Regions from separate parts of the Homo sapiens genome. Here all the other regions are linked to region 1. Evidence: fine-mapped expression QTL. A gene starts in region 1. Each other region holds a variant in brackets. All regions are shown on one strand. Distances are between the middles of the regions.

Region 1 (11,020 bases):
GGAGGATTGCTTGAGCCCAGGAGTTGGAGGTTATAGTAATCGATGATTGCACCACTGCACTCCAGTCTGGGCCACAGAGTGAGACCCTGTCTCTAAAAAAATAAAACAAAATATTGTTCTCATCCATGAGTTCTTAATGAAATTCTAAATTTTGCAATTATAAAATGTTAATTTCATACTCCTTAAGATGTAAACATGTAGCATTTACATGTTTCACAAATTAACGAATAAGTAAATGAATATAAATAAAGTTGCAAAATATTTTACTTGATGAAAACTGCATGTAGAAAGAACCATTTCTAAGACCATTAAAATAAGCAAGAAGACAGAATGCTATTCACTATTTCAATAAGAGCAATTTATAATATAGTCTTACTATTCTCAAGGGAAGAATATCTTTAAAAGTGCCTCTTACATTACAATCTCCATAACAATTAGGTAGCACTTCACACAAAAAAATATTCACTGAACAAACAAGCAATTCTTGATTCATGATTCATGTTTTAAGAACTCTCTAGCCAATTTAGCAATAATGTGTTCACTCATGTTCCTCATTACATGGAGTTAACAAACCTACTTCCTAGATACAATGTGTGTGTATATAGTGTAAGACTAGTAAAATTTGCAACAAATATTAAATTACAAATTTGATCATTAGGATAAGAAAATTTAATCACAGGACGAAGAACTGGAAAATAATTTGTAGGTTTGAAAGGATATTGAGAAGTCATCAAGTTCAACCTCCAACCTCCACTACTATTTACAACTAACAATCTGCAAGGAACAAATCTGTCTCTTAATAGCATCTTCCAAGCAATGCTCCAAAAACCTCAAAATTAACAAAATTGCTAGATCACGGCATCTAACCATAAAGAAAAGGCAATCATTTTTTCCATATCCCGGGAATTGACAGAGACATATAGAAAGATCAACTAGTACATAACTCTAACTGCCTCACATTTAATTATCTGATTAGGAAGTCAAAATAGACAGACTCCCTTTAGACAGCTAGGTGGACTTCCAGGCACTGTCCAAGGTATGCAATCAGAGCAGACAAGAAAGGCTAGCTCTTTATCAAAGAAATCCTAGCCCTGCTTTACTCCACTGGCAGTAAAAAGTTTGCAAACCAGGTTACATTTTGTGCTTCTTCGAATTTATCTAAACTATCTGATCCTGACTGCCACTTAAATGCCAATAACTTTTGGTCTGTTTCTTTGTTTGTTTTTGGTCTGTTTCTTCCATCCATGGATCTACACAAACTGGTAACATTCATCAGACAATAAATATAATTTACTTTTCTTGCCACCAGGTTAGATCATCTGAACTATATATAAACCTTTTTGGTAAGCATAGCCATTTATTATTACCAACGATGGTCCAGTCATCAGCTTCAATCAATTAATACATATACATAATTTTAAAGCTCAATAGTGAAATAGAAAAGAAATGGTCCTTTCCACTAAGCATTGTTTTTTTTTTTTTTGAGACGGAGTCTCACTCTGTCGCCCAGGCTGGAGTGCAGTGGCGCCATCTTGGCTCACTGTAACCTCCACGTCCTGGGTTCAAGTGATTCTCCTCTCTCAGCCTCCCACAGGTGCCCAGCACCACGCCTGGCTAATTTTTGTATTTTTATCAGAGACAGGGTTTCGCCATGTTGGGCAGGCTGGTCTCGACTCCTGGTCTCAAGTGATCCGCCCACCTGGGCCCCTCAAAGTGCTGGGATTACAGGTGTGAGCCACTGCACCTGACCCAAACACATTTTAAAGCAGAAATAAATCCCAAATGCAGAAATATTATAAATGCTTAGAAAGGGTCCCTAGAGAGTTTGAGTTTAGAATTCTCCATAGGAAAATATATTAAACATGATTTTGTCTTCTCTTCCCAAAAGTTATCACCATTCTGTGGGAAAATAAATGTTTCTATTCAATAATGTTTTGTGATAATATGGGAATAATAATTCTAACTGAAAAGGACCAGGGAAAACTTTTTGGAAGCAAGGAATTTTGTACAGCACCTTGAAGGATGGGTAGATCTTATTAGCCAAATGAAGGAAAGGCATTCCAGTCAAGGGAAAAGAATGGCTCAAGAAAAAGGGAGGGTAGAAATGCACAGAATGTGTTCCAGGATAAGCACACAGTATTCAGAGTAGTGAAAGAGAAGGCTGAGAAGGTAGAACAGTAACAAACTGTGAGGGACTCTGAACATGTGGCAGAAGCATATATTCATATTCAGCCCCCCCTTTTTTTTTGAGATGGAGTCTTGATCTGTCACCCGGGCTGGAGTGCAGTGGCGCGATCTCGGCTCACTGCAACCTCCGCCTCCCTGCCTCAGCCTCCTGAGTAGCTTGGATTACAGGCGTGTGCCACCACACTGGGCTAACTATTGTATTTTTAGTACAGACGGGGTTTCACCACGTTGGTCAGGCTGGTGTTGAACTCCTGACCTCGTGATCCGCCCACCTCGGCCTCCCAAAGTGCTGGGATTACAGGCGTGAGCCACCGTACCCGGCCTCAGCCTTTTATTTACACAATGGGGAACCTTGCTGGTATTTTTTCCCCACAAAGGAATAGCCAAGTTGGATCTCTGCTAGGAAGATAAACCAGCAGCAACATATAAGGCAGGAATGGGGAGAAAAGAAAAATACTACAAAAACTCCAGAAACAACTACTGAATAGGAAGCATTTTCTTGTCATCTCACAACACCAACGACATTGCTTTGCACATAAGAGAGGCCCAACAAACTTTAATTTCTTCCCTGGGAAGAAGACAGGAATTATGACGAGGCCAAAGAATCCTACAATAGTGAGAAAACCGGACTGTAATACATTTCTTCTCCACAGTAAAGATTCTATTCATATTTATGTAAGAAACTCAGAAAAGTCTTACTCTTCACTTATGTTTTGTATAAAGATGATTAAGAAGATATTGAAAATATAATGTGATTTATAAGATGATTTATAAAATAATGAAGCAAGATAGTTCCAACAGAAAGATTGAAATATTTCTGCGAAGCTACAACAAAACACAGCACCTAAAGGCATCTTTAAAGTAGAACTTGTCCCTACAAATGGAATCCAGAGACACAGCAGAGATTTAAACAGACACACAGAAGCAATACAGCATGTGCTTTGGGATCAGGCCATGATTTGAATCTCGGCACAGTGACTTATTAGTTATATGATCTTACGCTAAACTCTCAGTTGGTGTGGGCATAATGACACTTACCTAAAATGTGCTGTGATAATTACAGACATGATTTATAAAGCACCTGACCCAGCACCTGGCTCTGATACATAACAAAAGTACTCAACATAGTGCTGTAGTAATAACAGTAACTGTTATTATAAAATAGACATATTTAATATATATTCAAATAAATTTAGAATAACCTAAATCTATGTCAGATTTTCCATTTTAAAATTCCAGAGAACTAATTACAAATTTCTAAAGATAGATCTTAGAAATATTTTATGTTTATGAAAAGGTCATTTTTAAAACTACTATATCTTATCACTGTTTTAATTAGTCTAGTAAGCAAGTCTCAGATCTATATTAAAATATGTTTGTAACACCGAATATCTGATTTAAGAATGTAAGAAAATACAATTAAACTGCTTATCTGGCCAGAGAGGATTTTGGAGACATGCCTCTACAACAACATCACACAACTTTTTACTTTGAAACCGCTCCAATACTTAAATTATAAGTAATAGCCTGGGAAATAGCTTGCGAAAACGACTCCGTGGTAGTTGTAAAGAGAAGTAGGTGTGAGACCACCCCTAATCCCTGAGGCCCCCCTCTCCTTACACACACCATGTCAACCAACAGTGATCTACCCTTTTTAATGTTGTTTATTCACTTCTAAACAATCAACTAAAGCTGCTCCTGAATAGTGAGAACCCAATCAAAAGTGGTATTTATCAGAAGCAATCACACCGGCTATTATCAGGCCAGAAATCTTCGGTACACCCTTCTAAAGTGGCAGCTTGAAAACTCAGCTCTGTTGGTCCTGCTGACTTCCAACACACCCCACGAACGCTCCAATGCAAACCCGATAGAAAGGAAAGCCAAGAACCTACTTCGTTTAATTCTACGGTGTGGTTAAATTATGCATTAAGGCCAATAAAATTTCCATCCTTACTCGTTTTCTTTAACAGAGTTCAAATGCTACTAGTTCAAATGCTCTAACTGGTTACTATTAAAACAAGGAAATTACAGATTTTTTTTTATTCGAAGGTATTCTATAGATTTCAGGAAAGAGTTTTCTTAACGTTTTATGTTTACTTACTCTTTTTGCAGCAACTACCAATTTCTATGGTAAATCGACCAGTTGGTGCCCAAAAGTTCACTAATTTAAGCACGGTCAAGGCAGGTATTTGCCATAAACTGCCTGGTTTAGGTAGGACGCGCCCGACTCCAAGTGATTGCAATCAGCCTCGGAATGAATTCCACGGGGATTCGGGCTTTGATTCACAATTTGTTACTCACATTCAGAGTGGTAAGAAGTCGCTGGACTCTAGTATAGTTTTTATCTTAAAAAAAAAAAAAGACTCAGGAGTGAGGCTCTTAACGCTTTACTCTCATTTGAAGACCTTCCGACAAAAAAGCAGCAACTCCTCAAGCCGAGTTTCTGGTTTCTTGAGCATCGACGCCGCGTCCCCGCAGCGCCCACAGGTCCCGCAAGCCCCCAGCCCGCCTCCTGCCCAAAACAAAGGACGTCACCCCCAGACCTCTGGACACAGAAGCCCCACACGCACGCACACGCACCCCTCCCTGTCACCTCCCTCCGAGAGCCCCTCAAACGCCTCAGAACCCGCGTCGCGGAAGCGCTCACCTCCCGCGGGCGGGCGGGTCCCGGGTACGCGGTGAAGGTGCAGCGGCGGCCGCCTCGGGCGACAGACGGGTGGTCACGGCCCCTCCCCAAGGCAGGGGCACCGCAGGAGGCCGGCGCGCCCCCTGCTCCCGCCCCCGGCAGGTCACGTGGGCCAGAGCTCGTAGCGCCCCTCGCTTTCCCGGAGCGTCCCTCCGCCACCTAGGGGTCCCGCCGCTCCGCCGGTCTCAACACCGCCCTCCTCTGCGCCTGCGCCCCGGCTCCAGGCGCTCTCATTCAAACCGACAACGCCCCGCGTCTTTCGGACCGGCCAATGGCGGGCGGCGCAGCGGGGCGGGGCGGGGCGCTGGTTGCCCCCCTCTTCGCAGTCCTGGGGAACCGTCTGCGTGTCAAGGTGACAGGGGGCTTGGGAGCTTGGTCCTCCTCTGCTCCGGGACGTGTCCTCAACCCTCAGACTGAAGTTTCTTTCCTGTCCTCTTCTTTCTTCTTCAGACACTAAAAAGTAGAGCAATAAATATTGTCTAGAGTTGGCCGGGCGCTGTGACGGACGGCTATAATCCCAGCACTTTGGGAGGCCGAGGCGGGCGGATCACCTGAGGTCGGGAGTTCGAGACCAGCCTGACCAACATGGAGAAACCCCGTCTCTACTAAAAATACAAAATTAGCTGGGAGTGGTGGCGCATGCCTTTAATCCCAGCTACTCAGGAGGCTGAGGCAGGAGAATCGCTTGAATCCGGGAGGCGGAGGTTGCCGTGAGTGGAGATCGCACCATTGCACTCCAGCCTGGGCAACAAGAGCGAAATTCCATCTCAAAAACAAAACAAAACAAACAAACAAAAAACATCGTACAGAGTTCAGATAGAGGCTGGCCTAGATCCCTTTAAAAAAGGAGCGCAAAACCAGCGCCGCCTTTTTGGAAGACTTGGTGCTGCGCTACAGAATGAGTGTCCCAAGCGGCAGATGCGGGATATAGAAGAAAAAGAGGCCTCTGTGGAAGGAACAGAGGGACCGTGTGAAAGTCTGAACAAGGCAGCCTCAGTTCTTGAGGCTGTGCCCAACCCTGGCGTTTCCAGCTGTTGGAAAAGCAAACTTCTGTTGACTACAGAATCGCTGGTTCCCAGGAAAATTGGGTGGCAGTTTTACTCAGTTTCACTCAGTTTCAGCGCCTACATTCTAAAGACACTGGGAAGAATAAGTTTTATTTCCATTCACCTCTCCTCCATGTCAAGGTGACCCCAAAATAGTAGTCACCTTATAGTTTGTTCTTCACAAAATACCGGCCGGGCGCGGTGGTTCACATCTGTAATACCAGCAACTTTGGGAGGCCGAGGCGGGGGGATCACCTGAGTTGGAGACCAGCCTGGTCAAAATGGTGAAACCCCGTCTCTACTAAAAATACAAAAATTAGCCGTGCCTGGTGGTGGGCGCCTGCAATCCCAGCTATTCGGGAGGCTGAGGCAGGAGAATTGCTTGAACCCAGGAGGCGGAGGTTGCAGTGAGCCGAGATCGCGCCACTGCACTCCAGCCTCGGCGACAGAGCGAGACTCCGTCTCAAACAACAACAAAAACCAAAATACCAAGACCAGAGTCTCTCTGGGGTAAAGCATCTGATGAATTTACTTAGATTATTTTTCAAATAGATATTTCTCTTCTGAAATGAAGTTTAAATGTTTCTACAGGGTAAAGGCTATGTTAAAGAAAACTCCGGGTTCAGTATCTCCGTGAATGATGGCCATAACCAGTGATCCAAGCAACATTTCCCATTAGGTGCATGTTATGGCAAATTGCTTAAAGGAACAGCTTTATCATCAAACTAGACCTGGGTTTGAGTTCCAATTCTGCTACTTACTTGCTGATTGACCTTGAATGAGTTATCTTCTTTAGTCTTAGTTTCCCCACCTGTAAAACATAATAAAGCCTCTTCTAATAAGGGTTGCTATGATGCTTCTGTGAGGTAAGGTTGTTAAGTGGTTGACATAGGGCCTGACACATAGAAACTGCTCCATACTTGATACCTATTATCGTTACAACCATCTTTAATATCAGGTTCTTGTAAATAACAATGGAATTGGTTGGCTGTACTGTTTCAGAGGTAGGTATTAATTCCTTCTTAATTATAAATTCTTTTAAAGTATGGATACTGTGAAAGCCACAAAGGAAATTTTATATATATAGAGAGAGAGACAGGACCTCCCTCTGTCACCCAGGCTGGAGATCACTGCACAGCAGCCTCAACCTCCCAGGGCCAAGTGATCCTCCGATCTCACCCCTCCCCTACACCCCAGTAGCTGGGACCACAGGAGCTTGACACTATGTCTGGCTATTTTTATTTTTTCAGTAGAGAAAAGGTCTCACTATGTTGCCCAGGCTGGTCTTGAACTCCTGGGCTCAAAGGATCCTCCTGCCTTGGCCTCCCAAAGTGCTGAGATTATAGGCATGAGCCCCCTCACCCAGCCAGAAGTACAACATTACATTCAACATGTCCAGAATTATTTACCCCCTGCAAATCTTCTCTTACATATGTGATTTCTATCTCTGATATTAGTTACTTCCATCTTCCTAATCACTCAAATTGAAAAATATCTTTTAAATGGCATAAGTCAGATTATGTCACTCTCGTACTCGTAAACCTTTAGTGATTTCCCATTTAATTTAAAATAAAATCCAAACTTCCTGTGGGGGAAAAGGCCTTAAGCCATCTTGCCCCTGCCAATTTCTCTCTTCTCTCCTATTTTTTCCTCCTGCTGCCTCACTTTCCTCCAAGTACACAGGGCATTCTTCATGCCCTAGAATGGACTAAGCCTCAAGGTTCTCTCAGGACCTCCTCCCTGCCTAGATTTTCCCCAAGCTCTTTAAATGGTTGGCTTCTTTTCATCCTCAGCTCTCAGCTTATTCATTACAGTATTCAGCAAGTATGTATTAAACTTCTGCTGTGTGTCAGGAGCTGTTCTAGGTACAGGGAATATAGTAGTGAGCACAACAGAACACAGCCCCTGATCTCTTGGAGCTCAACAAAAATAAACAACAAGAAATATCAGGACTGGGTGTGCTCACACCTGTAATTGCAGCACTTTGGGAAGCTAAGGTGGGACGGCTGCTTGAGGCCAGGAGTTTGAGACCAGCCTGGGCAACATAGTGAGACCCTATCTCTACAAAAATAATTTTTTTTATTAGCCTGGTGTGGTGGCACACACCTGTAGTCTCAGCTACTCGGGAGGCTGAGGCTGAGGCCCAAGAGTTCAAGTCTCCAGGGAGCTATGATCCAGCCACTGCACTCTAGCCTGGGTGACAGAGCCAGACCCTGCTTCAAGAAAGAAAAAAGAAAAAGAAAAATATCAGGTTATGATAGGTACCATGCAGAGAGTTACAAGAAGGGTGATGTGAGAGTGAGTAAGTGACTACTTTACTTCAGATTGGGGGCTAAGATAAGGAAGTCCTCTCTGAGAAAACGGCATTCAAACTGGGATTTGAATTATGAGAAGGAGCCAGCCTTCAAGCAAACTTCAGGGAAAAGCACATTAGGAAAAGGCAACAGCCAGTGCAAAGTCCTGCGAGGATTTTGCAGGATTTGAGAGCTTTGTGGACTTGAGAAACCGGAGGAAGGCCACTGTGGCTGCAGTGAGAAAGAAGAAAACATACAAAAGGCAATGTAGACCTTTGTAAGCCAGGGTAGTGAGTTTGGACTTTATTTTCTAAATATTATAGGAATCCTGTGGAAGGTTTTAAATATGGGAATAACTTCATCTGATTTATATATATATATATATATATATATATATATAAAATACGTATATATATATATGTATATATATATACGTATATATATATATATATATATATATATATATCTTTTTTTTTTTTTGAGATGGAGTTTTGCTCTTGTTGCCCAGGCTGGAGTGCAATGGTGCAATCTCAGCTCACTGCAATCTCTACCTCCAGGGTTCAAGCAATTCTCCTGCCTCAGCCACCCGATTAGCTGGGACTACAGGCATGTGCCACCATACTCAGCTAATTTTGTATTTTTAGTAGACAGGGTTTCACCATGTTGGTCAGGCTGGTCTTGAACTCCTGACATCAGGTGATCCGCCTGCCTCGGCCTCCCAAAGTTCTGGGATTACAGGTGTCAGCCACCATGCCTGGTCCTGATTTATATTTTTAAAAAAGCACTCTGGAACAAATCCAGAATTTGAGACATTCTGCAACTAGCCCAGACTCTTTATAAATGTCAATGTCATGAAAAACAAAAAGGCACATTAGTCTTGCTGGGGATCCTGGATCAGAGAGAGAGAAAGACAGAGAGAGAGAGAGAGAGGAAGGGATCTGTTTAAAAACATACTGTGATCTGCTCCATAACATTTATGTTTAAATGCCTATTTTATGCCAGGCACTTTGCTGGATGCTGGGAACACAGCAATGAAGTTTTTACCACATCACTTCCACAGTACTAGATGAAACCCCCTGGTGATCACACTGCTGACAGGCTTCCTTGACCATTTTCCAGTGTGTTGGAGTAGGGGGAGAGCACTGATAATGTACATAGCCTCACAACATGTGGGGTTGTTAGGATAGGCCAAACTTTGCTTTAAGATGAAACCAGGGTGGCTAGACTTCCCTGAATTATAAACGACCACACTGAATCAAGGCAAACTTGAATAACCAAGTAAATAACATTTGTTGCTTCCCTCCCCCAACAAAATCTATCAGAGTAACAGTGCTCCCTTGACTAAAAGAAAGAAGATTGGTTGTGTAGTTTCCTCAGCAAGAATGTGGACTTGATAACTCCACCTTTTAGAATAAAAGGAGATCCGGTGCGGTGGCTGATGCCTTTGATCCCAGCACTTCAGGAGGCTGAGGTGGGAGGATCGCATGAGCCCAGGAGTTGGAGACCAGCCTGGGCAACATAGTGATACCCTGTTTTTACAAAAAAATAAAAATTAGCCTGGTGTGGTGTCATGTACCTGTGGTCCCAGCTGCTTGGGAGGCTGAGGTGGGAGGATCACTTGAGCCCAGGAGGTCAATGCTGCAGTGAGCTGTGCTTGCGCCACTGCACTCCAGCCTGGGCAACAGAGCAAGGCCTTGTCTCAAAAAAAAAAAAAGTGTGTACATATATATACACACATACATATGTATCTATATATGTATGTACATATATACACATATATAGGTGTATGTATATATATAAAATAAGAATAAAAGAAGGAAAAAATGAGAGTGTGGAGTAGGTGAGTGAGTAAGAGCTTTCCAAAGGAATAGCTAAGAAAAAGAGAATGGGAAGGAGACTTCAAAATGCAGGGAAACAGCCTACTAACATGCCTAATCTCTCATGTGAAATCTAGAGTAAATCAGTAAATAATAATAGCTAAGATTTATTGGTGCTAGATATATGCCAAGCACTAGTCTAAACTTTTTTCATGTTTGAGGATTATACCTGGACATTGACTGATGTAAAGACTAAATGAATTAATACATATAAAGTGTTTAGAACAGGGCCTACCACATATAAGTGCTAAATTTTGCTATTATTATTATTTTAACTATAATCTCCACGGCAACCCTATGAAGTAGGTACTAACATCATCCCCATTTTACAGTATCTTAGGCTGGTTTCCCTAGAAGCCAATCCTGAGATGGGATTTAGACCCTGTAATTTATCGAGGGAGGGCTCTTTAGGAGGAACCCATAGGGAGAGAGTGAAACAGGATAGGGAAGGGGAAACAACCAAGAAAAACGGATCTTAGGAAATCCTAGCCTTGATCTGCTCTATTGAGGGAGGGCTCTGGAATCTAGAGCATAAACCAAACTGCAGAATTAGCCCCATCTTACACAAAGGTGTTTGTACCTTTGTATCAGGATAAAGTGGGGCGTAACTGCACCCCCCCAAGTGTGGCTGCCTTCCCTAGTGTAGACTCTCCAGAGAAAAAGGCACCTGTGAGCTCTAGCAGCCAACCTCACAACAGTGGAGAGACAGGTGTACTGGCCAGTAAAGCGTATCCAAACAGGGCACCTAACATAGCATCCACCAAGGCTAGTAAATGGTAGAACCAGTCTGTCTCAGGAGCCATGCTTTTACTTTCTCTATATATACTGACTTTTAAAAATTCAAAAGGAAAATGACAAATGGAGACCTATGTTACTGATAAAGAGTTAATACTAAATACTTAGTATTTAAATGAAATTACCTTACAGTCT
Region 2 (11,020 bases), 38 kb after region 1:
ATTTTCATGGATACTGCCTGGTCCAGGCCCTCCAGAGCATCCTTTATGCCTGATTTAAGTTGCACTCCTTCCACTGGGCCTTGGCAAAGGTCTCTCTCTCTCTATCTATCTATATCTATATATACATATATAGATATGCACTCCAGAGCTCTGGCTTTGGTATATATATATATATATATATGGAGAGAGAGAGAGAGAGATGGAGTCTCGCTCTGTTGCCCAGGCTGGAGTGCAGTGGTGCAATCTTGGCTCACTGCAACCTCTGCCTCCTGGGCTCAAGTGATTTTCCTGCCTCAACCTCCCAGGTAGCTGGGATTACAGGCACGCACCACCATGCCCGGATAATTTTTGTATTTTTAATAGAGATGGGGTTTCACCATGTTGGTCAGGCCGGTCTTGAACTAATGACCTAAAATGATCTGCCCACTTCGGCCTCCCAAAGTGCTGGGATTATAGGCATGAGCCACTGTGCCTGGCCTTTGGCTAAGTACTCTAAGCCACAGTCTCTTTTCTCAATGGAATAACATCTCTAAGACCAGGAACTGTGCCTGATGCAATTTTTTAATCTCACACTTCTGGCCCAGGGCCAGAAATAGAAAGTGCTCAGGGAATGTTTAGTGACTGGGGATGTGGAACTGAAGCCTCCATACATCTTCAACATGCCCCTAACCCGCACAGTTTAAACATTCATCTGCTTGAGGCTGCACGTAGTGATGTCTGGAAGACCCATTCACAGCTTTGGCTAAATCTTCCTGCTGTTCCTTCCCCATCTCATCCTCCAACTCCCCACAGACTGAAACCCAGGCCATGTAACTACAGTTCCTTTTTAAGATCTATGTGCCTTCAGACATATTGCTAGAGCTCCAATTTCCTCCTTTGTAAAAGTGGGATAATAAAATATACTTTACTACATTTACAACATTGATGTGTTGATTAAATAAGATGAGGAATGGAAAAATGCTTTGTAAGCTAAAAACCATTCTGCAAATATACAGGATTATGAATGTCCCACTAAGGAAGGCCAGAGGCCTCTGAGTGGGTTCTGAGAGAGAAATCAGAAGTAATTGTACTTTTGAGCTGTGTGCTGTGAGGGTTTGTGAATGTTGAGATGACCCTTGGGTTGTCTGTAGTTTAGATGTCAGACTCTGAGACAAAACAATTTATGCTGCTGGGAGAAGGATGGCAGCTTTGTTTTGACACTACTGTAGGGTACACCTGCTTTGTGTTTTTGGGAAAACAATTACACACACAGGCTTGCATGTGAATGATTCCAGTGACTTCACCGCTGCAGGTCCTGGAGAAACTGCAGGGACACCTTGAACTGCTGGAGCAGAACTTTCTGGCCACCAAGGACAAGCATCTGACTTTGCAGCAGCAAGTCCACAAGCACGAATCAACAATCGTTGGTGACTTTGATCCAGAAAGGTCAGATTTAAACCAACTGTGTAAGGTGGAAGGGTCAAAGGTGATCTCCTTCAGGTGGGATTCTGATGTGGCTGCTGGCTTAGTGCTTGGAGAGCCACTGGTCTAGGGTCAGCAGAAACTGTGTCACCAATGAACAAAGTGTCACCTAATACCACAGACAGCATGGAGGACCTGTTGAGTGTAAGGTGCTGTGCTGGACATTGACTCAGATGGAACACCCAAAATGAACAAATGCTTCCTGGGGCAGAGGCATTGTACCAAAATTTTGCAATTTGTTGAATATCATTATAATTGGTTTGGAGACCCAGAGGAGCCTAAGAAAACCCTAGAAAGGCTCACATGATAACCACAGAGGGCCCTCTTCTCAAGTTCCTCCTCTCCTCTCCCTCTCAGCTTTTTCCTCTCTTATCTATCTCTCCCCACACCTGCCTTTATTGTCCTTGCCTGGTTCTCTCTTCTGTCCCTCTCTTTCCCCTTTTCTTTCCCATTCACTGATAATTCCAAGGCACACTGGGCAGGAGGGGGTCATTGTAAAGTTAATTGGTGTCAGGGTGAGGGACCTACAAATCCTGATAAAGGAAAAGCGTGAAAGCTTAAAGTTAAATGATTTCTGAGTTAATTCACATTAGAATCTTGAACACACACTCCAAACTGAAGTTTCTAACTGGTAGTTTTTATGGCACTGTATTCTCCTTTCTCCATTCCAGATAATTTTAAGCTGTATTCCAGGACTCAAGGAGAGGATTCTTTCCCTATAATTTCCTGGTATAAATTAAAAGAAACTATTTAGTAGGCTTAATATTTGTGAGTTTAGCCCTTTCTATTCATAGCATTTTAATATGGAATTGTTGTTGCCAAATTTTTTAATGGTTTACATTTCAGCCCTAGCGTTCTGTGGCATTTTTTTCCCCAAGGTATGGTTTTACTTTTCCAAAATTAATGGAACCTCTGTCTACCTTTATTTCAGCACTGAGTAATTAGACAGTAAGGATGAGGTTTTAATATTGATTTTTTTCCCAAAGGCTTTTTTTGGGGGGAGAGGAAGAAAGAACTCTGCATGCTTCTGCTATTTAAAATTAATAGAGTAAGGATATTTATTTTCCAAGGAATCTTCTGCTTGGGCAGTCATTTTAAAGACAGGTTTCTGTGCACATTAAGACCAAAGTTATTCAATGTCTTATTTATATCCTAGTTACAGCCACACTGTGCCTGGCATGAGTATAAATAAAAAGAGCTTCAACTGCAATTACATTCCATATATGGGAGAAGCTTTCAACACTGGGGCAAGGGAGGGACCCAGACTTTCCCAAATCTCGGCTGAAGTCACCTCAGGACAGGCAAAGACTGATCAGCTCCAGAATAGTCCCCTTGTTCTCAAATGGGCATAATGTGACAAGGAACAGAATCCCATACAACCCTTGGGTTCTTGATATGTCGAGAACCTTATAAGTGTTGAGTCCAAAGGCTAATGCAGAGGGCTTTCTGGAGGGGCAAGAATTCTGCAAATTCATTGACTAGTCCTTTGTTTACATCACCTGCTGTGCTCTTATTAAAGCCTTCTCATTATTACCTTTACAAGGTAATGTGCAAAAATATTTGCTTGGATTTCATGCATCTTGCTTGTCAGAATGTAGTCCAATAGTAATTTGCTTCTTTCACATATTAACTTCAGAAGCCAAGAATTCAAGAAATGGGGTTCTACCTTCATCAGCCACTTCTCCCTGAGAGTCTCAGCATAAAATCTTATGTTCTGCTTTAAAGAAAAGATCACAACTTCCCTCAAAAATGTCTCTTCTATCTCCAAATCCCCATGTTTTCACCTCCTCTCCCTTCCTTAGTCTGCTCTCCAACCTCTCTAGCCATGGTCCTTGAACCCATCCCTTTCTACTTCCTTGAGGCCTTGCTCCATCATTTTATTTCTTTTATTATTATTATTTTTATTATTACTATTATTATTATTTGAGATGGAGTCTTGCTCTGTTGCCCAGGCTGGAGTGCAGTGGCGCGATCTCGGCTCACTGCAACCTCCACCTCCCAGGTTCAAGCGATTCTCCTGCCTTAGCCTCCAGAATAGCTGGGATTAAAGGTGCATGCCACCATGCCTGACTAATTTTTTCATATTTTTAGTAAAGACGGGGTTTCACCGGGTTGGCCAGGCTGGTCTTGAACTCCTGACCTAAAGTGATCTGCCCACCTTGGCCTCCCAAAGTGCTGGGATTACAGGCATGAGCCACCGTACCCGGGCTCATTTCTTTTAAACTTTCAGTCTCTCCTTGTCCCCTGTTTCATTCTCTTCTGCCTGCAAGATCCCAACATAGTTTCCTATATTTTATTCAATTATCACTTTGTTTTTTTCATGCTTAGATCTTTGTCCCACCACTTATTGAATAGGGCAGCCTTTCCCCACTGGTTGAAAAAGCCCCTTATATCAGATACAAAACCTCCACATGTATACAGAACTGTTTCTATTCCATCCCATTGATCTATGTGTCTATTTCTACATTATCCACATAAACTATTATAGGTTAGTGTATATTTAGAAATGTTTCTTCTTTTTAAAATTTTCTTATAGCTATTCTTATACACTCATGTTACTAATAAACTTTATAATCAGCTCACCAAGGTTCTTAATAAAATTTCATGAGGATTTTGCTTAGGAATGTATTGAATTTATAGGTTAGATTGGGAAGAACTGAAATCTTTGTAGTAAGTATTCCCATCACGTTTTCTTCATGCAGATTTTACACATTTTTTTGTTAGGTTTATTACTAGCTATTTTATAGTGTTCTGAGTATTGTCGACAGATGTTTTCTCTAATTGATGTCATAGGAAGTATTTCCATATTGTATATTTAACTTGTACTGGGCTACCTTATGCAATTCTCTTCTTAGTGTTTTGTTGATTTTTTAGTTGATTGTCTTAATTTTTAAGTATGACAATCCATAGCATCTGAAAATATTAATAAGCTTTTTACTCCAGAATATTTGTATTGTACTTTCTTTTCTCTCCAATTCTTATCTATCTCATTTCTTTTTCTTTATTTCATTTGCTAGGTTTTCCAGAACAATATTGGATAATTAATATTAGTGAAAGACAGCATTTTTTTTTTTTTCAGACAAAGTCTCACTCTTGTCCAGGCTGGAATGCAGTGGCACAATCATAGCTCATTGCAACCTCAAACTCCTGGACTCTGGGATCCTCCCACCTCAGCCTCCTGAGTAGCAGGGACTACAGGTGCATGCCACCACTCCCAGCTAATTAAAAAAAATTTTTTTTGTAGAGACATGGTCTCCCTATGTTTTCCAGGCTAGTCTCGAACTCCTGGGTTCAAGTGATACTCCCACACTGTGGTCTCCCAAAGTGTTAGGATTACCAGCGTGAGCCATAAAAGACAGCATTCTTGTCATGTTACTAATAATAATGAGAACTCTCCTAAGTATGATTCAAATAGATAAGCTTCATCAAGAGAGTTTTCTTCTATTCCTAGCTTTCTAGAATTAGGGCTTTTGTTGTTATTTAATTCAAGAAAATGTTTAATCAAATGGGATTTAGAAATCTAGTTTTTCTCCTTTAATCTATTAATTTAGTGGAATATGTTAATAAATATACTAACGTTGAACCACAGAATGAGTTGGGCAATTTTCCCTTTTCTTTTTTTTTTTATTGAGACGGAGTCTCGCTCCTCCAGGCTGGAGTGCAGTGGCGCGATCTTGGCTCGCTGCAAGCTCCGCCTCCCGGCTTCACGCCATTCTCCTGCCTCAGCCTCCCAAGTAGCTGAGACTACAAGCATCCGCCAAGTTTTCTGTATTTTTAGTAGAGACGGGGTTTCACCATGTTAGCCAGTATGGTCTTGATCTCCTGACCTCGTGATCCACCCACCTCGGCCTTCCAAAGTGCTGGGATTACAGGCGTGAACTACCGCGCCGGGCCCCTTTTCTTTTCATGTTCTGGAAGAGTCTAATAATATAGGACTTATCTGTTGCTTAAAAGTCTTGGTAGAATTATGTTTAGTGAACTCCAAGGTTCTATACACGTGCTTCGGGGTCTGCATATACTTGATTTAAATTTCTCCTTTAAAAATATATGTTGAAATATATGCTTTCAAACTGTTATAAATTACATTTTAAACTATGTAATACATAAAAATTAACATATTAGAGACATTGAAATTTTTTTTAAAAGGCTTGGTAGAACTCACCCATTATCCCACTCTTCATGCCTTTCATGGAGTAGATTTTTAACACTTTCCATTTTTCTCTGGTTGTTGGTCTTTTCATATTTTCTACTTTTTTAAAAGTGAATTTTAATAATTTATATTATTCTAGAAACTTGCCCAGTTCACCTAAATTTTAAATGGTGTTGATATGGATTTTTCAATGCCTTTTGATTTAAAATTTTTCCTATTTTTCCTTTCTCATTCTTAATGTTATTTGTTTTTCAGACTTCCAGTGGTTTGTTTCATAGATATTTTGGAAGAAAACATGTTTTATCTTATTGATCAAATTCTTTTAAGTCTCATTTATTTCTAGTAATTTTATGAATCCTTTTCTGTGGTTTATTTTATATTCCCTTTTCTATCTTCCTATTTTAAATAGTTGATTGATTTTTGATTTTTTCCCCCAATAATGCATTTAAGACTAGAAGTTTTCCTCAGAGTACTGCTTTAACTGCATTACATTGGTTTTCCTATGTTATTCTCTCATTTGTCATTGACTTGTAAGTTATGCCTAACATTCA[T/G]TTTTATTTCCTACTTAATCCAAAGCTATTTAGGTATTAAAATTTCTAATTAAACAGGGTTTTTTTTGGGGGGGGGGCTATCTTTTTGTTGTTAATGTCTAGTGATAAGAGAATGTAGGTAGTATAATTTTTAATATTTTGGATTTTCTTGAAATTTTCCTTTGTGGACTGTTACGAGGTAAATTTTTATAAATGTAATGGATTTGAAGAAAATGGATTCTCTTTGTTGGGTAAAATATATATTTATATACACATACACATATATTCATATGGATTAGAACTTGTTAATTAAATTATTCAGATATCTAATATTCTTCCTCTTTTTAAATTAGCATAACAAGTAATTCCATAGAATCACAGTTCTTAGAATCCCTTGTAAGGGATCTCAAAATCATCAAATCCAGATAAGTAAGGTACAATATTGTTATCCCAGGTTATAAGTGAGACATTGGAGGCCCAGAAATACTAAGTGATTTATACAAGGATACGCAGCTAATGGACAGCAGGTGAAGATCAGAGCCCAGGCTGTCAGAGAAACTATGAACAGTCATGCGGGCTCCCATTATCCTTTGTGACAGAAGACAGGCCACATTAATAATATAAATCAATGCTGTATTCAAGAACTGTCATTATTAATTAGAATGCCAACCACATAGCCCAGAAGATGCCTGTGTGTTTATGTTTACTTAGAAAAGTGGAAGGTGAAATCTTCAAATTGGAGATGCTGCTTGAAGATGTTAAAGAGAAAATGGATGAAAGCAAATATACTTCAGCTCCTTCCCTTCCTGTGAGTTCTCCAGTTACCCTGGATGACTTGGCCTCCACCTTCTCTTCACTCTCAAATGAGGTAATACAGCAATGTACAGTCTAATTTTGTGCCAGGAAAAATGGTGTTTTTGCATTTATAGACTCCTAATTCATGGATTCACTGAATTCCATTTTTAATATCTCATGAAAATTTAACTTTCCAAAGTCCCATGAATTATATTATTTTAAATGGAACCAGCTTTTAAAGATTAGAAGCTATTTCAAGTGTTAATTTTTGAAACATCTTTATAGTTTAGGATGTAACAATGCTGTTTAAATCCATTAAACCACCGAAGAGCTATTTCTTCCAAATTAATAAGAAAATTTTTGTAGATCATGCCTGGAAGAAATAATTTTTTTTCTTCATAGTTTTGTACTCACCAGGCTGGAGTGTGGTAGCACGATCTCAGCTCACTGCAACCTTTGTCTCCCGGGCTCAAGTGATTCTCCTCCCTCAGCCTCCCAAGCAGCTGAGATTACAGGTGCATGCCACCACTGCCTGGCTAATTTTTTATATTTTTGGTAGAGATGGGGTTTCACCATGTTGGCCAGGCTGGTCTCAAACTCCTGACCTCAAGTGATCCGCCCGCTTGGCCTTCCAAAGTGTTGGGATTACAGGCATGAGCCACCTGAAAATAAAGAATAGCACACTCAGTGAAATAATTATTTCCCATGAATCCACTTCTGCATTTTCCTTCTCTCAAGTTAAATTCTTTTGGATTTCTACTTATGCAAGATTGGGAATTCAAATTAACCACCACTGTCTTTCTATACTTTTTGCCTTTGTAGCCTCAACTATCAGAACATTCAGACTAAAATCAAAATTCTGAGAAACAGAATCATTTAAATAAATACCTTAAATTGACTCTTTAGTTTCATACAGTATTTGAAGACACAGCCTGGGGCTGATATTCAAACTTGAATGAGGATTTTGTCAAAGCGAAGGACAAAGTGACAAAGATTATGTCAAGGTTAGCCCTTCCGAAGAAGTGTTTGCCTCCTCAAAGCACTTACTTGCCTGGCAAAATCTCACTCATTCAAGGCCCAGCTCTAGCGTCAGGTCATTTATGCATCCCTAGTCAGCCACCCTCCTCACCCCCAAGCCCCCCAATCCCCCGCACCTGGAGGAATTCTTGGCCCCGGCCTCTGTGTCCCCGCAGCACTGGGTCTCGTTTGTCTCTGTGACTCTGCACTCATCTTTGAATCCTGAATGTCCAGCTGAAAGCCCAGGAGAGTCGATGCTTCATAGAGGAAGCCCTGAGCCACCGTGGATGTAACAGCCCATCTCAAGGCACCCAAGCAGTTTCCAGGCTCACAGCGGCTGCCCTGCTAGTCTTGGACCTGCAGGAGTCACAAGTCTTTGTGAGGCCACCTCAGGGTTGGCCCTGCCCTCTACCTGGCAGCTCCCTGGGGTCTGGATCTGCTCTTCTTTACTTGGTCCCAAGTTTACAGCTACTGTTGTGAAATGATGAGAACTCTCTAAATAACTTTGTGGTAAGTGGTTCTGGAAAGAGTCTAGTGCTGGCATCCTTCATTCACTCAGCAGTATGTATTGCTATAGGCTAGCACTTTTCTAGGTATTGGGGATAAAACATGAACAACAAACAAATCACCTGCCCTCAAGATGCTTACATTTCTGTAAGAGAGACATATACTTAACAAATTAAGCCAGGTGCGGTGGCTCACGCCTGTAATTCCAGCACTTTGGGAGGCTGAGGCAGGCGGATCACGAGGTCAGGAGTTCGAGACCAGCCTGGCCAACATGGTGAAACCCCGTTTCTACTAAAGATACAAAAAATTAGCCGGGCGTGGTGGCGGGCGCCTGTAATCCCAGCTACTTGGGAGGCTGAGGCAGGAGAATCGCTTGAACCCGGGAGGCAGAGGTTGCAGTGAGCCGAGATTGCGCCATTGCACTCCAGTCTGGGTGACAGGGCAAGACTCCATCTCAAAAAAAAAAAAAAATTAAATTAACATATAATTATGAAATGTTAAAAAGCACAGTGCAGAAAATAATAATACATTCTGCGTGACTCTGAAGCCAGACTACCTGGGTTCACATACTGGCTCTGTCACTTATTAGTTTTGTGATCTTAGGAAAGTTATGCAACCTCTCTGTGCCTCAGTTCTCTCTTCTGTAAAATGCAGATAATAATATTTGCCTCACAGGGCTGTTATGATGTTTAAATGAGTTAATATAAGTAACGTACTGAAAATAGGGCCTGGCTCACAGTGAGTACATTACTCCTGGGTGTTAGCTATCATGACTATTAAGTAATGGGATATGACCAAAAGTAACTAAATGCAGAAGGTTTGAATTACTAAGGGAGAAGGTTTTTCAGAGAAGGTGAGATTTGGACTGAGTCTTGGAGGATGAGAAGACAGCTAGGTAAAGAGCTGGGGGAGACAGGGGTGGGGGGACGCCAGGCAGGATGTTATGGTGCCTTAGGGGTGCTGTAGGGATGCTGAACTGATTTTGAGTCACCTCCAGTGGGACTGTGGCTCTAATTCAAGTCTTTCTGTGTGGCTCCCCCAGATTCCCAAGGAGCACCCCGGCCACCCTTCTGGGCCTCGAGGCTCAGGTGGGAGTGAGGTAACAGGGACACCCCAAGGAGGGCCGCAGGAGGCCCCCAACGAGGAGCTCTGTGAGCTGGCCCCGCAGACGTGAGTCCTAGCCCTGGAGCCCCAGCAGACACAGGACACAGAAAGAGGCCCCTTCCTCATGCAGCCTCCAGGAAGGCCCATGAGGCTCCCACAGGAAAAGCAGTCTTGGACCACGAGTTACAAAGCCTGGTAGCCTGGCTCCTCACCTGCCCCACCAGCAGGGCCTGGCCAGCCTCTGCAACCCTCTGGGCAGAGATCTGAGGGACGGGACAGCTGGGGCTGGGGGACGCGGGGAGAGGTGAAGGTCAAGTGGCCGCATGAGGCCCATAGCACTCTCTGCCTTAGGTTGCTCGCTCCCACCATCCCAGGGGTGATGCCAAGTGATTCCAAATAGTGGAGCTCCCAGGTAGCTCAAGAACTGATTCTAACATTCAAACTGCTTTTTTTTTTTTTAAATTAGTTACCTAAACGGTCATTATGGAGATGCAGCTGCCCAGAACAAGCCAGACCAAGTGGCCATGAGGCTGTCTTCTAACTCTGGGGTAATGTCCTGCAGCCGGGGCCTGGCTGGGTTCTTCTCATTGTTGGCTCTTTAACTAAAACCAGTGTTGCTGAATGTGACTGTGAAATTGGCATAATCAAGATCACTTACCTCTTCCTAATGGCATCCTGGGTGTCAGTGCTGGTGATGGCTGGTACTGCTGACGGTTTCCCACTTTCTGCACTCCTGAGAATCTCGGCAGGCGTACCTAGACCGGAGCTTCTCCAACTTCTCCGAGCCTATGAATCACCTGCAGATCTTGTTAAAATGCAGGCTCTGAATCAGTAAGTTTGGGGCGAGCCTGCAATTCTGCATTGCTAACAAGCCCCAGGTGATGCCAAAGCTGCTGGTTCTGGTCTGCGGACCACATTTTAAATTCTGAGGGTCTAGAGATTATTTCATTTCGAATGAATTGGAAATGCTGGGATTACCAACCCCGGGGTCTTAAATGATATTATATTATAATATTATAATAAGCAGTAAACAATGATATAATAATTATGTTGGCTCAGAGCTTTACAGTTTGCAAAGACTTTTTGCAGAGGAAGAGTAGTTTAGAAAGGTGATATTTGTTCAGGGTAAATGATAGGTGATGCCCGGGTCTCCAACTCAGGTGGAGGGGCACCTCCCTGCATTCTGCTAATGTAAATCTGCCTTAAATGTCAGTGGAGGAGTAACCCTGTAAGCTCAGCAATGATAAAATATAAAAATTAAAAAAAAAAAACCATGGGAAAAATGGATGAAAAAACCCTTTTTTTTTAAATTATAAAACTGATACATGCTTATTACAAGAGAAATGAGAAAATAAAGAAAAGTATAAAGAAGAAACTTCCACTGAGAGGAAAATCAATCTAATTTTTTTTTTTTGAGACAGTCTCGCTTTGTTGTCCAGGCTGGAGTGCAATGGTG
Region 3 (11,020 bases), 33 kb before region 1:
CGATTCTCCTGCCTCAGCCTCCCGAGTAGCTGGGACTATAGGCGGACACCACCACACCCAGCTAATTTTTGTATTTTTAGTAAAGACAGGGTTTCACCATGTTGGCCAGGATGGTCTCGATCTCCTGACCTCGTGATCCACCCACCTCGGCCTCCCAAAGTGCTGGGATTACAGGCGCGAGCCACCGTGCCCGGCCGAGAGCCTATTTTGACAATGTAATTATTCAGTTCAAAGGAAACGGAAAAAAGTAGCCTTGATGTTTTCTTCAATAACCTGTTTCTAATTATGAAGTCCCTTCCCTTTTACTGTGCACCCCTCTCCTGCAAGAAAAAGCCTAGGGAAGATGTATCTTCAATACAAAGTACTTGTTAAAAAAAAATGCTTTTCAAGAATGCAGCCAGAAAAACAACTCTCCTCTTGATCATAAATTTCATTTATCTTGGCAATAATGTTGCTATGTAGTTGGGGAAAAAAGCTTGTCCTTTTGATCTTCCTGATCTTCTATTAATTAAAAGTAATACATTTGCATAGTAAATGATTCAAACAGTTCAAACTGGTATATAAAGTATTTCTAGCCTAACCCAGACACTCAGTCCTCTTCCCAGAAGAAATCATTGTTAGCCCGTTTCTTATATCTTATTCCAGAATGTTTTAGGAATCTACAAAGGAAATATATGCATGTATTTTTCTTAAACAGATGGCAGCATACGGTACTCATTCTTTTTGCACTATACTTTTTCTGACTTTTTTTTTACAGGCAAATTTTAAAGTGATACCTATATAGGGCAAGCCTTATTTAAATTATTTCATTAAATTAAAAATTACTAAAACATTTTATAATAGTTCATGAAATTTAAAACATAAAACCTGCCACCCACCTTTTCTGGTGTTAACTTCATAAGTTCCATATTTTCCATACTATGCCGGCGTCCCAACTTGGGGCGTACACCTTTGTTTAAAAAAAATTAATTCAAATAAACCAGGGAGCCCTTAAGAGTACAAGTTCAGCATCATTACATTATTCAGTTCTAAAATCTGATACACAAACCCATATGAAACGAGAAAACCTGTACAAATATGTATTCTTCCAAGAATAATAATTTTCTATACCAGCTACACAAAAATAGAATATACATTCCCCTCTAAAATGCTTTGATGTAAGGAAGTTACATTTTGGTTGGAAACTAACACTGGTTACTACATTACCCCTTAATTTGAAAAAGGCATTTTATAACAACTGGTTTTATACTATCCACACAGTTTCAAAAATAACAATCTGTAGAGCAGTTTATTCCTTATAACAGAAGGAAAAGGCTGTAGGCCTTCAATTGCGTGAAAAGAATCAAAATAGCATCCCCACTACTATGCTGTTACTCTTTTCTAGGTTACCCCTTTCTATTTTAAGATCTCATTAGATGACAGACTTACTGCCAGTCAGAAAACAAGTAAACGAGTCCTTAAACTTTTTTCAATAAAGTTATTAAATACAGAGAATTTCCATATCCATTCAATGTTTTAAAATATTAGGCAATATTTTAAAAGGCATAAGAAATACCTAATACCCAGCTTAAAAAAAGAAACATTACAAACACATTAAACTCCCCTTGTATAACTCCCCTCATAATTTCCCTTGTCTTCCCTGCGCTTTTATGCATTTTCATTACAAATGTATGTATTTCTTAGCAATACAGCATGTGCTATATTGCTTTTGAAACTATATTGGTTTTAGAGCTATATTGGTTTTGAAACATTTATAAATGGTATCATACTGTATGTATTCTGCAACCATCTTTGAGAAACCTTATGTTTGTGAGATTCATCCAAGTTGCCATGTATACCTTAATTCATTTTCATTGCTGTTTTTGGCAAAGGCTTTTTTATAATAACTGGTTTATACTATCCACACAGTCTCAAAAATAACAGACTGTAGAGTGGACTAGGAAATCATCCATTTTATTAGTGACAGATATTTGGGTTGCTTCCAATTTTTTTGCTATGATAAGCACACTACAGATATTCTTGGAAACGTCTCTCAGTGTACATGAACAAGCATTTCTTCTAGTTTGGTGGGTATCAGCAGTATATAACTGGGAGCACAACAGGAGTGAAACAGCTGGATCATCCAGTTGGCGCATCTTTAACTTCACCAGAATGTTGCTGGATTGTACTTCAGGGTATACCAATTTCTATCCCATCAATACCACACAAGAGTTTCCATTACCCTGCATCATTTGAATACTGGTAGTAATTTTTGTTTACCTCATAAGTTTCTACCAGTACTCCACTGTGATGTTTGCTGATGAGATGAAGTTAAATATCTTCTCATATATTTATGGGCTATTTGTGTACTGTTCATCACTTTTGCCCCCCGCCCCGTGTCCCCCCCACCCTTTTTTTTTTTTAAAGTAGAGACAGGGTTTCACCATGTTGGCCAGGCTGGTCTCGAACTCCTGACCTCAAGTGATCTGCCCACCTCAACTCCCAAAGTGTTGGGATTACTTGTGTGAGCCACCATGCCTGGCCGGCCCCCGATCTCTTTTTTTGAGAAGAGGTCTTGCTCTGTTGCCCAGGCTGGAGTGCAGTGGCGCAATCACAGCTCACTGCAGCTTAGGTGACCTCTTGGGCTCAAAGCGATCCTCCCACCTCAGCCTACCAAGTAGCTGGGGCTATAGGCATGCAACACCATGTCCATTTTTTTTTTTTTTTTTTATACAGACAGGGGTCCTATGTTGCCCAGGCTGGTCTTGACTGCTGGATGCAAGCGATCCTCCTGCCTCAACCTCCCAAAGTGCTGGGATTACAGGTGTGAGCCACTGCACCTCTCCTGCATCATCACTATTACTGCTCTAAATCTGTCTTTCACATTGAAATCCTTAATCCATCAATAATTCATTTTTATGTGAGATTATTTTCCATATATGTGAGGAATATAGGCTCTCTACTCGATTCCACTGGTCTATTTGTCTTTATGCCAACAGCACACTGTCTTATTACTTATATCTGTAAAGAAAGCACTTTTCATATTCTTAGGAATGTTTTGGTATTTCTCAGAACTTTTTTGTTTCATATAAACTTATGAATAACTTCATGAAGTTCCACAAAATAATTGTGATGTGTTTGGCAGTGCACTTAATTTTTATCAATTTGAGAAGAACTGAAATCTTTTATAAAATTTTGTCAGCCGGGCACGGTGGTGCATGCCTGTAATCCCAGCACTTTGGGAGACTGAGGTGGGCAGATCCCTTGAACTCATAAGTTCGAGACTAGCCTGGGCAACATGGCAAAACCCCATATCTGCAAAAAAATATAAAAATCAGCCAGACATGGTGGCATGTGCCTTATAGTCCCAGCTACTCAGGAGGCTGAGGTGGGCAGATTGCTTGAGCCTGGGAGGTAGAGGCTGCAGTAAGCTGAGATGACTCCACTGCAGTTCCGCCTGGTGACAGAGTAAGAGCCTGTCTTTAAAAAAAAAAAAAAAAAAAAAAAATTGTCTTCCCACTTGAGTATGGTTTATCACCCATCAATTACTAAGAGATATGTATTAAAATTTCCCGTTATGATTGTAGATTTTCCTATTTCTTTGGTCAATTTTGCTTTATGTACGTTGAGGCCTTGTTATAAACACCTATTAAGCCCAGACACATTTAATGCATTCATCTTCCTGGTGAATTGAACTGTTAATCACTGGTAAGTACCACCGTAAAGTGACCTTCTTCATTTACTTTGGTTTTTGTTTGTTTGCTTGTGTTTTTGTTTTTCTGAGATGGAGTTTCGCTGTGTTGCCCAGGCTAGAGTGCAGTGGCGTGATCTCGGCTCACTGCAACCTCCACCTCCTGGGTTCAAGACATTCTTCCACCTCAGCCTCCTGAGTAGATGGGATTACAGGGCCCTGCACCACCCCCAGCTAATGTCTGTATTTTTAGTAGAGACGGGGTCTCACCATGTTGGCCAGGCTGATCTTGAACTTCTGATCTCAAGTGATCCACCAGCCTCGGCATCCCAAAGTGCTGGGATTACAGGCGTGACCTACCACACTCAGCCGACCTTCTTCATTTCTAGTAAGACCCTTTGCCTTAAAGTACATTTTATCTATTAACATAGCTATACTGACTGTCTTTTGGTTAGTTTTTGCATGATGAATCTTCTATTCTTTTACTTTCAGGTTTATTATATCCTTATATTAGATATTTCTCTTGCAAGTAGTGTGTAGTTGGATTTTATTCTTTCTCCAATCTGCTACTGTGTCTTATAAATGGAATATTTTCATTTAATAGTTCTAATGAAATAGAACTATTTCATTAGTTCTATATGAAATAGATTTAATAGATTTGGATATTTGGGTGATTTTCTCTTTACTATGTTCATTAGTGAATTACATTAATTGATTTTCTAATGTTGAATCCACTTGAATTTTTTTTTTTTTTGAGACGGAGTCTCTCTCTGTCGCCCAGGCTGGAGTGCAGTGGTGCTATCTCGGCTCACTGCAACCTCTGCCTCCTAGGTTCAAGTGATTCTCCTGCCTCAGCCTCCTGAGTAGCTGGGATTCCAGGCACACACCACCACCCCTGGCTAATTTTTGTATTTTTGGTAGAGACGGGGTTTCACCACGTTGGTCAGGCTGGTCTCGAACTCCTGACCTCATGATCCGCCCGCCTCAGCCTCCCAAAGTGCTGGGATTACAGGGGTGAGCCACTGCGCCCGGCTCCCCGTTTGTTTTAAAATACATTACTGGATTTGCTTTGCTAATATTTTGTAAAGATTTTTATATCTTATGTTCACAAGTAAGGCTGGCCGGTAATTTACTTTTCTTGTATTGTTCTTGTCTAGTTTGGATATCAAGGTTATGGTTCTCAGAAAGATTGATAAAAGTATGTCCACTTATTCAGTTGCCTATAAAATTTTTGTGTAAGGTATTATAATTAGTTTTCTTAAGTGGCTGGTTTACCTCACTTGTACAATCATCTAGGCCAGGTATTTTCCTAGTGGGAAGATTTTAAATTACTGCTCGAATTTCTTTATAATTTTAGCCATTAGCATGCCATTCACATTACATTTTACCATTGGAACAGTTTTGGTAACTTGTTTTTCCAGAAATTGCCCATTTCTCCTAGATTTTCAAATATTTTGTCATAACGTTATTCAGAATCTCTTTTTAATCTCTGCATATTTATTATGCCCTCTTTCTGTAGACTTAGTCAAAATTAAACTAAACAATTTGGAACCAAATTTTGACTTAAAGAAAACACTGTTTTAATTTTATTAAATTCTGCTTTTTAATTTTTGCCTTCTTTCAGTGTTTTTTTTTGTTTGTTTGTTTTACTTTTTAAGCTAGATGGTATTAAGCTTTCAGCCTTTTTCCTTTTTTTTTTTTTTTTTTTTTTTTTGGAGATGGCGTCTTGCTCTGTCGCCAGGCTGGAGTGCAGTGGTGTGATCTCGGCTCACTGCAGCCTCCGCCTCCTGGGTTTAAGCAATTCTCCCGTGTCAGTCTCCTGAGTAACTGGGACTACAGGTGCATGCCACCACGCCCAGCTAATTTTTGTATTTTTAGTAGAGACAGGGTTTCACCATGTTGGCCAGGATGGTCTTGATCTCTTGACCTTGTGATCCACTCGCCTGGGCCTCCCAAAGTGCTAGGATTACAGGCGTGAGCCACCGCGCCTGGCCAGCTTTTTCCTTTTTAAATACAACATAAATTTTGCTCTAAGTACCAATGTAAGTCACATGCCACAAAATTGAAACAATATTTTTATAATTCAGTCCTAAGTTACTTTCTAACTTTAAGATTTCTTTCTCAACCTGTAAGTTACTGAGAAATGTTATGTTTTCAGATTAATGTTTTATATATTATCTTATTAATTTCTAAATTAAATGCACCGTGCTCAGAGCATGTGTGATACAGATGTGATACAAATCCTTTTAAATTTGTTGAGATTTGCTTTATTGTCAGTTTTCTGTAAATGTTTCATGAATACTTAAAAATAATGGAAATTGACCAGTTAGGTCAATATATTTCCATTAAAGCAGTGGTTTTCACTTTTAAGGTGTGACCCCATATTAAAAAATACACATATATACCTAGAACATACACAAACATACAACAAAATCTTCACACAACAGTTTTATATACATACATACACATA[C/T]GTGTGTAGTTTTTTGGTTTTTCTCTATTGCCCAGGCTGGAGTGCAACAGCATGATCATGGCTTACTGCAGCTTCGACTTCCTGGGCTCAAGTGATCCTCCCACCTCAGCTTCCCGAGTAGCTGGGATCACAGGCTCATGCTACCATGCATGGCTAATTAAAAAAATTTTTTGGAGAGATGGCGGTCTCCCTGTGTGCCCAGGTCGGTCTAAACTCCTGGGCTTAAGTGATCCTCCCACCTCAGCTTCCCGAGTAGCTGGGATGACAGGCTCATGCCACCATGCACGGATAATTAAAAAATTTTTTGGAGAGATGGCGGTCTCCCTGTGTGCCCAAGTCGGTCTAAACTCCTGGGCTCAAGTGATCCTCCCAAGAGCTGGGATTACAGGCATGAGCCACTGCCCCGGCGTGTGTGTGTTTGTGTTTTGAGATGGAGTCTGGCTGTCGGCTGTGTGTGTGTGCGCGCACGTGTGTTTTGAGACGGAGTCTCTCTCTGTCGGCTGGAGTGCAGTGGCGCGATCTCGGCTCACTGCAAGCTCCGCCCCCCAGGTTCACGCCATTCTTCTGCCTCAGCCTCCCGAGTAGCTGGGACTACAGGTGCCCGCCACCACGCCCAGCTAATTTTTTAGTAGAGACACGGTTTCACCGTGTTAGCCAAGATGGTCTCGATCTCCTGACCTCGTGATCCACGTGCCTCGGCTTCCCAAAGTGCTGGGATTACAGGTGTGAGCCACCGCGCCTGGCCTCCTGTGTTTTTTTTGTTTGTTTTTGTTTTTGAGACAGAGTCTCGCTCTGTTGCCCAGGCTGGAGTGCAGTGGAGCAATCTCGGCTCACTGCAAGCTCCGCCTCCCAGGTTCACGCCATTCTCCTGCCTCAGCCTCCCGAGTAGCTGCGACTACAGGCGCCTGCCACCACGCCTGGCTAATTTTTTGTATTTTTAGTGGAGACGGGGTTTCACCACGTTAGCCAGGATGGTCTCGATCTCCTGACCTCATGATCCGCTCGCCTTGGCCTCCCAAAGTGCTGGAATTACAGGCGTGAGCCATGGCGCCCGGCCCCTGTATGTGTATTTTTAATGCTAACTGCAACTCATAAGACTCATTTTATAACTCATGAATGGGTCAGACACATAGTTTGCAAAATATTGCATTAGATGAAGCCTATTAATTGTGTTGGTCAAATCTCAACTTTATTACTGATGTCTGACTCCTGACTGATTTTTATCAATTATTGAGGTGTGTTAACATCACATTAAGACATAACTATCACATAAGACGGATTCTGGAGCCAGAGTGACTAAGCTTAACTCCCATCTCTACCACTTACTACACAGGTAACCCTGGGAAATTTACCTAACCTCTCTTGCCTCCATTTCCCCACCTGTAAATTAAGGATAACAGAAACTTAACTACTAGAATTGTTACAATTAAATGAGTTAAAACATGTAAAGCACTTAAATCAGTGCCTGGCATATCATAAGCACTCAATAAATGTTAGCTTTTTTTTTCAGTCTACCTAACATTTTTGTTATTCTCTTGTTTTCATTTCCTTGTTACTTCTGTAAACGTTCAACCACAGTCATTTTATTTTCTATATCTGATAATTCTAACATCTGAAGAACTTGATGACCTAATTTTGTTATTTTTTTCCTTACTATCTTGGCTTGTTTCTTTACATATTTGGTAATTTTTTTGTTGTGAAACGCTTATGACCTGGAATCAAGGATGCCTTTCCCCCAGAAACTATTTGGTCTTACTTCTGCTAAGTCTCTAGGAACACCTCTAACCCAAAAGTGCTTTAATGGATTAGGGTTTCTTAGACTGTGCAGATGGTATAAATCAAATTCCAAACCAGTATGTAGGGAGGCTTATGAATTCATGAATTAAGATTTTTAGCGAAGGCTCCTTTTTTCTACCTTGAGCCAACACCAGAAATAGACAAGTTTTCTTACAAATCCTTTCTCCTCACACTGGGGAGATGGCAATGAACAAAAGAGACCAAAAAACACCTGTCTTCATACAGCCAGAGTGAGCAAGAGGTGGAGTGGCAGGAAAAGAGGCTGAAGAGATAGGTTCAGATTACATAGGGCCTTTCAACCATGGTGAGGACTGAGGATTCCGTTCTAGGTGTGATGGGAACTAACTGAAGGGTTTTGAACAGAGGAACGACGTATATTCTAAAGGAGCACTCTGAGGCCAGGCATGATGGTTCATGCCTGTAATCCCAGCACTTTGAAAGGCTGAGGTGGCAGGATCACTTCAGCCTAGGAGGTCGTGCCTATAGTTCCGTCACTGCACTCCAGCCTGGGCGACAGAGCGAGATTCCATCTCAAAACCCTCCTCCCAGGTTCAAGCGATTCTCCTGCCTCAGCCTCCTGAGTAGCTGGGACTACAGGTCTGTGCCCCTGTGCCTGGCTAATTTTTGTATTTTTAGTAGAGATGGGGTTTTGCCATGTTGGCCAGGCTGGTCTCGAACTCCTGACCTCAGGTGATCCACCTGCCTCAGCCTCCTGAAGTGTTGGGGATTACAGGCGTGAGCCACTGTGCCTGGCCAAAATATTTTTTTAATTTAGAAAAAAAAAAAAAAAAAAGCACTCTGGCTCCTGTGTGGAAAAGTAAGTGTGAGAGATGCAGAATCGAAGTAAGAGAAATCATTGGTAGGCTAGGACTCTGCTGGGAGCTGTCGGTAGCTTATACTAAGATTGTTGCAGAGTACACTGTAGGAGAGATTAGGGATATATTTTGAAGGCAGGTTTCTGATAGGTTTGATGTAGAAGTGAGTGAAAGAAAGGGAACAAGGCCAGCTACTTGAGAAGCTGAGGTGGGAAGATCTCTTGAGGACAAGAGTTCGAGACCAGCTCGGGCAACAGAGTGAGATTCTGTCTTTAAAAATAAAATAAAATAAAATAAATAAATAAAAGTAGAAAGGGAACAAGTATGACCCCTAGTTTTTTGGCCTGATTAGTTGAGTGAATGGTGATACTATTTCCTGAGATAGGGTGGGGTACAGGAAGAACATGTTTAGGAGAAAACATTATGGACATGCTAAGTTTTAGATGCCAATTAGATATGGCATGACAATGGAAAATTTTAAACAAATGAGTCTCAAACTCATGAGAGAAATTTTGGCTGGAAATATAAATCTGAAAATAATCAGTATATAGACAATATAAAAGCCAAGTAACTGGATGAGATTATCTAGAGCTGTGCTGTCCAATAGCCAGTAGCCACATGCGGCTCTCTACATTTTAATTAACCAAAGTTAAGTAATATTAAAAATTCACTCCCTCTTGTAGTAGCCACATTTCTAGTGATCAACAGCCACATGTAGCTAGTGGCTTTTACATTGGATGGCAGATGTAAAACGTTTTTATCATCACAGAAAAGTTCTATTGGAAGCACTGACTTAAAGCACAGAATAGAAGGAAAAAGGATAAAATCAGTAAGAAGGAAGGAGAGAGAGATGGAAAATAGGGAGGGAAAGAAGGTAGGAAGAAGAGGTCCAAGAACTGAACCCTGAGCACTACAAACGTAGAGGAAAGATGAAGAAGAGGAGAGAAGAGAATAAAGACGAGAGTGGCAAACCAGAAAAGCAGAGTAATCCTGGAGGCCAAATGAAGAAAGTTTTCTCAGAAGGGAATGATTGGCTATAGGAAATATTGCTGAGAAAAATCAAGTAAGCTGACATGTGAAAACTGAATGATATATTTGGTAAAATGGAGGTCTCAGAGACATGGTGAGGGCAAAGCCCAACGGGAATGGGTTGAAGAGAGAAAGGGAGGCAAGGAAGTAAAGACAATGAATATTAGTGTCTTTTCAGGTTTTGTTATAAGAGCGAACAAAGGAACAGGTCTACAGCTAGAAGGGTCTATGAAGACAAGCGACTGTTTGTTTTTGCTTTTTAAAGATGAGAGCTCTTAACGGCATAACCTATTTGAAAGTTCAGCACAGAAAAACGTCTTAGCCCATCATTCAACCACAAAGCACGCAGTCACAAATTATTATACGGTTCACACTTCAGAACTTTTCACTAAATGTTCTTTGAAAATCTAAATCAGATGACTAGCCACTAATTTCTTTTCCTGAGTTTAAAGAAAAAAATTGGAAAAAGTAAAGGTAGATTTATCACTGACTTTAAAATTCAAAATATTTGTCAGTAGTTTTTTTTAGACTGAGAATTTCTCAAGCTTAGGAAAATGATCTCATATAGAATCACATACTGATGAAATTTAAAAATGTGATCCTAATCTTATCCCTTTTATTTCTTTAAAAGTAGATTTTCTTTCACTCAAAAAGAGACATTATAGCAAATTTCCTCGCTATAGAAATGTCAAACAAATCGGCACCTAAGGAAGGTGTCCTAAAGATAGGTTTTGCCACCAAAAAAAAAGAAAGAAAAATAAAGAGAGTATCTTAGATTTTCTGAATTTAAAAAAGTCCTAAGAAAATTCACCTTGGAAATGAAATGGGGGAAAAAGAACTAAACAGAAAACAGATACGTAAAACGATATGAGATAAAAAGGATAAACAATAACATTTTAAAATTTTGGCACCTTCACATTTACAAATTTTTGAATGAGCTTAGAGATAGAGAATTTAAATGTATTTTTACAAAAGAAAAGAACAATACCATCACCATTCCTAAGTTCATGGTAAAAACTATAAAATATTGTTTTACACTTATAAATTATATATTATAATTATATATATATTATATACAAAATATATAATTGTAATATATATTTACAAACAGAGCTGTGTACAGCAAAAAAGTGTAATAAGTTGAACTTCCCATGTTATATATTCTCTCTGAATATGCCAAATTTGTGATAAATAACTTTAATCTAAATATTGAGGATAAAAAAATTGGGTTTTAAAAGT

Direction of the effects. Positions count from the first base shown, and alleles are read on the strand shown. Sizes are in standard deviations (SD) of each study's normalised expression. Not every link is listed here.
In carriers of allele T in region 2, the expression in sigmoid colon of the gene that starts at base 5,078 in region 1 tends to be higher than with G alone (moderate effect, 0.40 SD a copy in GTEx).

What was found. PIP is the estimated chance that this variant, and not a neighbour inherited with it, causes the effect. A credible set is the group of variants that fine-mapping cannot tell apart.
Region 2: its variant is the best candidate, but not a certain one, in a credible set for the expression of GPSM2 in sigmoid colon (GTEx, PIP 0.74).
Region 3: its variant is the best candidate, but not a certain one, in a credible set for the expression of GPSM2 in whole blood (INTERVAL, PIP 0.66).

The regions. Positions count from the first base shown.
Region 1 is chr1:108,871,043-108,882,062 of GRCh38, reverse strand. GPSM2 (G protein signaling modulator 2) reads right to left here and starts at 5,078. Exons shown (of 15, transcript NM_013296.5): 1 at 4,835-5,078. RefSeq lists silencers at 4,683-4,752, 4,843-5,242 and an enhancer at 5,323-5,422.
Region 2 is chr1:108,833,539-108,844,558 of GRCh38, reverse strand. It overlaps AKNAD1 (AKNA domain containing 1), which reads left to right. Exons shown (of 16, transcript NM_152763.5): 6 at 1,292-1,425; 7 at 6,853-7,009; 8 at 9,503-9,630; 9 at 10,031-10,112. It overlaps LOC105378891 (a long non-coding RNA gene), which reads right to left. Exons shown (of 5, transcript XR_947687.3): 3 at 10,223-10,369; 4 at 8,091-8,310; 5 at 7,556-7,598. Among named protein-coding and RNA genes, the nearest start is that of AKNAD1, 18 kb to the left of the region's middle. The variant T/G (reference allele first, on the strand shown) is at 6,163.
Region 3 is chr1:108,904,267-108,915,286 of GRCh38, reverse strand. GPSM2 (G protein signaling modulator 2) reads right to left here. Exons shown (of 15, transcript NM_013296.5): 11 at 879-949. Among named protein-coding and RNA genes, the nearest start is that of GPSM2, 33 kb to the right of the region's middle. The variant C/T (reference allele first, on the strand shown) is at 6,141.